2 linked regions of the Homo sapiens genome follow. The protein of the gene in region 2 interacts with the protein of the main gene of each other region in a pairwise test. Each region holds a gene or a part of one and is shown on either strand. Other genes may lie near its edges.

The links.
Region 1: the proteins of RNF216 (region 2) and KIR2DL4 interact in a two-hybrid assay, tested with the Homo sapiens proteins (one study listed by BioGRID).

Annotation. Positions count from the first base shown.
Region 1 is NC_000019.10:54,801,798-54,805,714, reverse strand, and holds the start of KIR2DL4 (killer cell immunoglobulin-like receptor 2DL4 isoform c precursor), read right to left. Parts: upstream 2,106-3,917; 5' UTR 2,064-2,105; coding exon 2,024-2,063; intron 1,825-2,023; coding exon 1,789-1,824; intron 923-1,788; coding exon 638-922; intron 1-637. UniProt on the Homo sapiens protein: Receptor for non-classical major histocompatibility class Ib HLA-G molecules. Recognizes HLA-G in complex with B2M/beta-2 microglobulin and a nonamer self-peptide (peptide-bound HLA-G-B2M).
Region 2 is NC_000007.14:5,712,066-5,715,882, reverse strand, and holds part of RNF216 (E3 ubiquitin-protein ligase RNF216), read left to right. Parts: intron 1-692; coding exon 693-830; intron 831-3,019; coding exon 3,020-3,168; intron 3,169-3,817.

The sequences.
Region 1 (3,917 bases), on a different chromosome or scaffold from region 2:
CTTGTCCTTCACCTGGGTTCCTGTGTTGGTTTCCTGTTGTTGCTGGAGAAAATTATCACAAACATGGCGGCAGGAGAGAACACACTGACCCCTTCCACTTCTGGAGACAGAAATCAGACCCTGTTCTTCCTGGGCTACAATCAAGGCATCTGCAGGGCTGCATTCCCTCTGGAGACTCGGGAGAATCAGTTCCATTGATTTCTCCAGCCCCTTCGTGGCTCGTGGTCTTCCTCCACCTTCAAAGCCCACAGTGGCTGGTGGAGTATCCCACGATGCTGCTCTAATCCCCATTCTCCTCTTCCTTCTCCACTCATATGGACCCTTGTGATTACACTGAGCCCAGTGGGAGAGTCCAGGCCATCTCCCCATCTCAAGGTCAACTCATCAACAACCTGAGCTCCATCTTCCCCTTCAGTCCCCTGCCCTATAACATAGTCACAGGCTCCAAGGATTACAATGTGGCCATCGATGGGGACAGTTATTCTTTCCAACACAGCACCCATTCCCCTGTATTCAATCCCCCTTTACCCCAAATATAGTTGGGGCCTGGATGATCGGACTCTGGTGGACACCCCCACCAGAAGCTCTGGGACTCAGGAGGTGGGACAAGGAGAAGCCCAGACAGGAGCCCTCTGACCTGTGACCATGATCACCAGGGGGTTGCTGGGTGCCGACCACTCAGTGGGGGAGTGCGGGTGAAAACCTCGACATCTGTAGGTCCCTGCGTGTGCTGGGGTCACAGGGCTAATGAGGAAACTGTTCCAGAATATTCTGTTGTAGAGCTCAGGGACAGGGACCCCATCTTTCTTGTACAGCGTGAAGATGTTAAACCCACGACGATAGTGACACCGAAGAGTCACGTGTCCTCCTTGAGGCACCACAGCGCTGGGCCAGGCAGAGCAGAAGGGCTTGTCCTGACCACCTTGGGGAGAAGGAGATGCCGCCTCAGAGAGGAGTATGTTGAGCTGCCCCTCCCTCCCTGTGCTCAGAAGATTCTCCCCATTTCTTCTTTCTAAGGCTCCTACCACACCTGGGTGCCTGGGGCTACAGGAAGGACCCATCCCGCATAGACGTGGCGTCTCCCTACAACAAAAGTGTCAGTTGAGAACTGAGCAGGTGCTGAGTAAGGGACTCTTACTAGATTTTAATACTGCAAGATTAGTTACACCAAAGAACACAAAGTAGACATGGGGTGGAGGGTATGACCTTTGTGAATGGAATATTAGCTAATGCCTGAACCACAATAAACAACTGAGCTCCATCAGAGGATTTGGAATGGCAGGGTCGTGGCTGTGGTTCCCCCACCTCTTCTGGCAGAATGACAGCAGCCACACTGCAGCCCCTACCGTCATGGAAACGCTGGAGGGTGTGAGTTACCCTCTTGTCCTCAGAGGACCTGCTGTTCCTAACACTGCTACCCTTCCCTCCTCTGTCGGTGACACCACATCCCCCCACACACCCCAGCTTTGAGCACCTCAGTATCCCGCCTGGGCCACACAGAGCTCAACTCAGCCATGGGGAAGAAAGGCTGGGGAGGGCTAAGACAAAACAGAGGGCTGAGCATACCAGGATCTCCTCTTACTAGTTCATGAGAGACTCCCAGGATCTCCTCTTACTAGTTCATGAGAGACTCCCAGGATCTCCTCTTACTAGTTCATGAGAGACTCCCCCCAGGCCTTCCCATGGTCAGCCCATCAGCCCACCCTCTGTGCTGCCTCCCTCCCATTTCTGGAAAATTCACTTGTATTGGGGTGAAGATGGCAACCCATCATTTGGGGAAGGACTCACCCACGTGTGCCCACACACTCTGGTCCAAGAAGAACCCTGCAAAGAAAGATCATGATGAACTATTCATCTCGGCAGCAACCTACCCTTTCCTCCTGAGCCACTGGGCGCCACGCTGGACTGAAAATTAACTCATCCTCACCACTCACTTGCTTCAGAACATGGCTCTCTGCTGGGGAGACACCCAATCTGCAGGCCCATAGTGTAACCCTGGTGCTCCTTCCCTTCCAGGACTCACCAAGACATGCCAGGATGATGACCGTGGGTGACATGGACATGGTGCAGCTTCTGCTGCCAGGACGCAGTGACTCGGCTCGACTGACCGGTGCAGAGGATGTGGTGAGGGGCCCGGATCGTGCAGTTGACACATTGACCACAACATGTGAAGGGGACATAGGTAGGCTTCTTCTACGTCATATGAGGTTCAAGTGGTGAATCAGTCAAGGGAGGAATGAGGGTTTCTGAAAACTGCAGACTAGACTTGTCACTTCACATCATGCGCAACGGCCAGGCTCAAAACACATCTCAGACTCACTTACCCCTGCACGGGACGATTGAATTCTGCACTCACATGAGGAAATTTGATGTATTTTTTTTTGTTTCTACCTGAGATTCAAACTCTCCTTGATATGTAATATGCAAAATACCTAATAGGTTTTATTAACACTATAGAGCAATCGTATTAAATAAATCATCATAATTTTCCATGGTTGTATTTTTCCTGTTAAGCCAGAAACAGATAAAATGATTTAAATCCCAGTAGAAAAGACTATATAGTTATTTCGCATCATAGAATTCCACCTTATTAGCAAAAACACAATATGTCAATTGAAGGTCTGGTCGTGTTATCTAGAATTTGTCTTATGACACAAGAGTCCAAATTCACAGTTCCCTGTCTCCCTTTTTGTCTCTCTGTAACGTGTGCTTTTTTTCTCCCTGTGTTGTTTGTGTGTCTTTCTTTCTCTCTCTCATTTGAGGAAAAAATATCAGACTGATAACATCCTCCAACTTGATACTGGAATATTGCAATAACTGAAGGTTGAAATCTACACATTTAATGTGCTGTCATTCTTACAAATGTCTCTTATTTACACCTATCTTTCTGGAGTTTGTAAGAACTTTTTCACTATGCATTTTAAATTTGTAAAACTCATAATTTTTAAAAAGGGATGGGTCTCACTGTTTGCCCAGGGTGGCCTTTACTCATTCTATAAGGCTGGCATCACCCTGATACTAAAGACAGAAAAGAACATTAAACAAAAGAAAACTACATGCCAATATTCCTGATGAACATAGAGGCAAAAATCCACAAAAAATACTAAGAACTGAATCCCGCAGCATATCAAAAAGTGAATCCACCATGATCAAGTCAACTTTATTCTTAGGGTGCAAGGTTGGTTGAACATACACAATCAATACATGTGATTCATCACCTAAACAAAACTAAAAACAAAAACCACATGATCTTCTCAACACACATGTAGAACATACTTTTTACTAAGCATTTCTTCATGTTAAAAGCCCTCAACAAGCTAAGCATTGAAGAAACATAACTCAATATAATAAGAGCCGCCTGTGACAAACCCACAACCAACATCATACTGAATGAGTAAAAGCTGGAAGAAGTTCCCTTCATAAGTGAAACAAGACAAGAATGCCCACTCTCACCATCCTATTCAACATAGTACTTGAAGTCCTAGACAGAGCCATCAGGAAAGAGAAAGAATTATAAGGCATCCAAGTAAGAAGAGAGTAGCAGAGAGAGGTAGTCAAATTACCTCTGTTTGAAGATGAGATAATTTCTATACCTAGAAACCCCATAGTCTCTGCCCAAAGGCTCCTACATCTGAGAAACAAACTTCAGCACAGTTTAAGGGCAGAAAGTCAATGTACAGGCTGGGTGTGGTGTCTCAGCCTGAAATCTAGCACTTTGGGAGGGCGAAGCGGGTGGATCACCTGAGGTCTGGAGTTCGAGACCAGCCTGGCCAACATGGCGAAACCCTGTCTCTACTAGAAACACAAATATAGCCGGACGGGGTGGTACGCAACTGTAGTCCCAGCTGCTTGGGAGGCTGAGTCAGGAGAACCGCTTGAACCTGGGAGGCAGAGGTTGCAGTGAGCGGAGATCACGC
Region 2 (3,817 bases):
GTAATCCCCACTACTCGGGAGGCTGAAGCAGGAGAATCGCTTGAACCTGGGAGGTGGAGGTTGCAGTGAGCCAAGATCGTGCCACTGCACTCCAGTTCGGGCAACAGAGTGAGACTCCATCTCAAAAAAAAAAAAAAAAAAAAAAAGAATGAGTTGGTGATTGGATCCGTTGCTATAGTTAATAAAAGGAGTCAATAGCCTGGTACATTACTTGAGGTTGCTGCTTTAGTTATAGCTTCAATAGTCCCTTAAAATAAAGCGCAGACCTCGATAGACCCATTCACACTCCTTATGACAAGAACAAAATTCAACTTTTGAAAGTTTTTTGGGTAACATCTCTCATACTCCTTATCCTTGCTGTTTATAATCACATTAGCATCTGAGTACAGATGTTCTAGTTCCCTTTGCACCATGGGATTGAATATGATAACTTTATATAAAGAATTACTCTAAAGAATACCAGAAAAAAAACACGAAAACCTCGCTGTTTTAGGTATGGATTAATACTGTGTTAGTATCTTGAGCTAGATTTATATAGCACGAAACAGCATATCATTGTTTTATGGCCCCTAAAATGGGTTGCTTTACCTCAGAATTTGTGTGGGGGGTGGCAGAGAGATGAGGATGGGAGACAAGGCTCCCCCTCTCCTTAAGTGCAGGACATTTCATGTGTGTTTCTTGACTGCCTGCAGGATGGCCAGCTGATTGAGTGTCGCTGCTGCTATGGGGAATTTCCATTCGAGGAGCTGACGCAGTGCGCAGATGCTCACTTGTTCTGCAAAGAGTGTCTCATCAGATATGCCCAAGAGGCAGTCTTTGGATCTGGAAAGGTAAGAACTGTGTAATATGTCCCATGTATATAGGACACATTCCTGGAGTCTAAGGAGACCATGTTGATAGATAAGTGTAAGTGCCTCTTTGAGGGTGAGGTGGAGTTCTGCTGGTATGCTTATGTGTACATTACCTGATGTATGTGATTATGTGGGTTCTCTGAGCACAGCAGATTTCTTTTCAGGGCACAGTAGAATTCTTCCACACTCCCACGCCTAGCCGCAGAGGAGCACCTCCTTCGTTCATCATCTTATTTGTATTCAGAGGGAAGGTTACCTCAGAAAGAGAGAACCTTGCAGCCTATTGGATTAAATATATATTAAAATAACATAACTTACTTTACACAAGATCATATTTCTCTCTCCAAAGTGAGTTTCTCTGGACACCAGCATAACAAACACAGTATGGGAATTTTACATTGTTTTACACCACCGAGTTTGTGGTATTTTGTTCCAGCAGCAATAGAAAACTAACACAGTGATTAAGAAGATGACTTTTTGCCCGGGTGGCTCACGCCTGTAATCCCAGCACTTTGGGAGGCCGAGGTAGGCGGATCACCTGAGGTCAGGAGTTCAAGACCAGCCTGACCAACATGGAGAAACCCCATCTCTACTAAAAATACAAGATTAGCCAGACCTGGTGGCGCATGCCTATAATCTCAGCTACTGGGGAGGCTGAGGCAGGAGAATTGGTTGAATCTGGGAGGCAGAGGTTGTGGTGAGTTGAGATCGTGCCATTGCACTCCAGCCTGGGCAACAAGAGTGAAACTCCATCTCTAAAAAAGAAAAATAGGCCAGGCGCTGTGGCTTATGCCTGTAATCCCAGCACTTTGGGAGGCTAAGTTGGGTGGATCACAAGATTAGGAGTTCGAGACTAGCCTGGCCAACATGGTGAAACCCCATCTCTGCTAAAAATACAAAAATTAGCCAGGTGTGGTGGTGGGTGCCTGTAATCCAGCTACTCGGGAGGCTTAGTGAGCTGAGATCGCACCACTGCACTCCAGCCTTGGTGACAGGGCGAGACTCTGTCTCAGAAAAATAAATAAATAAAGTTTATGTTTTTTCAAAGAGCGTGACCTTTGGAGTCAAGCAGAATGCATTGGGCCATGCCCCCATCAGCCATACTAGCCCTGTGATCTTGAGCAATTTAAATTCCTTAAGCCACTGTTTCTTCCTCTGTAAAATGGAAATAATCATAGCATTGTTTTGAAAGCTAAATGAGGTGATGAGTTTAATGAACTTATTGTTTGACACATGGTAAATGCCTCATAAATTTTAGCTAGTTATTTTTAAAATGTCGTCTTTTTCCATTTGTTTTCTTTGGTGTTTGTCTTTCATGTGGGAAGCATTCCTCATGTCTGACACTTTTTGTTCATGTTAAAGAGCTGTTTGAAAGCTGTGTGAGTAGTGGGGCTTATAGACCAGTGAGTTTGACTCTAGGTGCATAGGAGCCAGTTAGCTTTTATATTATGAACCTGAATGGCTCTGAAGTCTCTTACCTGGGGTGATTCAGTCTGCCTCCTGCCTGGTGGGTGTGAGCCCATTTTCCAACATTCTGAAACTGAGGGGGAGGAAAGGTCTGGAGAGTTCTCTGTTCATTATGCAGACTCCATTTCAGACTCTGACTTCAGGCCACCCCTCAGCTCTGCTCTCCTCTATGAGTGGTTTCCAGTCCAGAGCCGTGTGGTCCAGCTGTTCAGGAGATCTTCCTCATTTCTCTCAGAGTCAGCCAATTCCTTCTGAAGCGGGTAGGAACTAGAGGCTCCACCCATGTCCCTGTTTTCAGTTTATTACTTTGAGTCCCTGCCCCTCCCCACCACTCAGCTCTGCTTTCCAGAGGTTCTCCAGCTTTCTAATATCTGTAGAGGGGAACAACTTCTCCCCAGCATCTCCTTTTCAGACCCTAAGCTATGGGCTTCTGTGTGTGGTCTGCTAAGCCATTTGCCCTTCCGCCACTTTCAGTCTTTGTGGATTGTGATTTGGGCTAATAGAGGTCCTTTAGTGATATCAAAGATGTACTGGATTTTTGTTTCATGGTTTCCATGATTTAAGTGTGATTTCTCAGAGATGAACAGGCAGAGAGATCCTTGCTATGTTGTCTCAGGATCTATGTTTTTAACCACTGACGCTTTTTATTTTTCTATAAATGGTATTGATTTTTTTTTCTTTGCCTTTTCGCCTTTTTCTAGTTGGAGCTCAGCTGCATGGAAGGCAGCTGCACGTGTTCGTTCCCAACCAGTGAGCTGGAGAAGGTGCTCCCCCAGACCATCCTGTATAAGTACTATGAGCGAAAAGCCGAGGAGGAGGTTGCGGCAGCCTACGCCGACGAGCTTGTCAGGTTCGTTCTCAGGCAGAGCGTGCCATCTGCCAACTCTTCCCCATTGTGAAAACTACCTGGGCACTTGCATCAGATGATGAAAATTGTGTTTATCTTCCAGGTTTTTTGACATTTCTTGCTGAGAAATAAGATTATCAATAATTTTACTTATTTATTTTTATTTTTTACGCCTCAGAACCATTGAGTAACCAGTAATTCTATTAATGGAAAAATCTGCCCCTCAAACTTCTTTTTTTTTTTTTGAGGTGGATTCTCGCTCTGTCGCCCAGGCTGGAGTACAGTGGTGCAATCTTGGCTCACTACAACCTCCGCCTCCTGAGTTCAAGCAATTCTCATGCCTCAGCCTCCTGAGTAGCCTGGATTACAGGCGTGCACCACCACATTCCAGCTTATTTTTAGTAGAGACGAGGTTTTGCCATGTTGGCCAGGCTGGTCTCCAACTCCTGACCTCAAATGATCCACCCACCTCAGCCTCCCAAAGTGCTGGGACTACAGGCGTGAGCCACCGCGCCCAGACTGTAGCTCAAACTTCTGTCTACATATCTTGGCACCCCCAAATCTTCTGGCCCGTAGATACAATCATGGTGCCCTGGGCTGGAGGGAAATCGGTATATGCAAGGAGTTCTCATTAAGGTTGGGACGTGTTTAT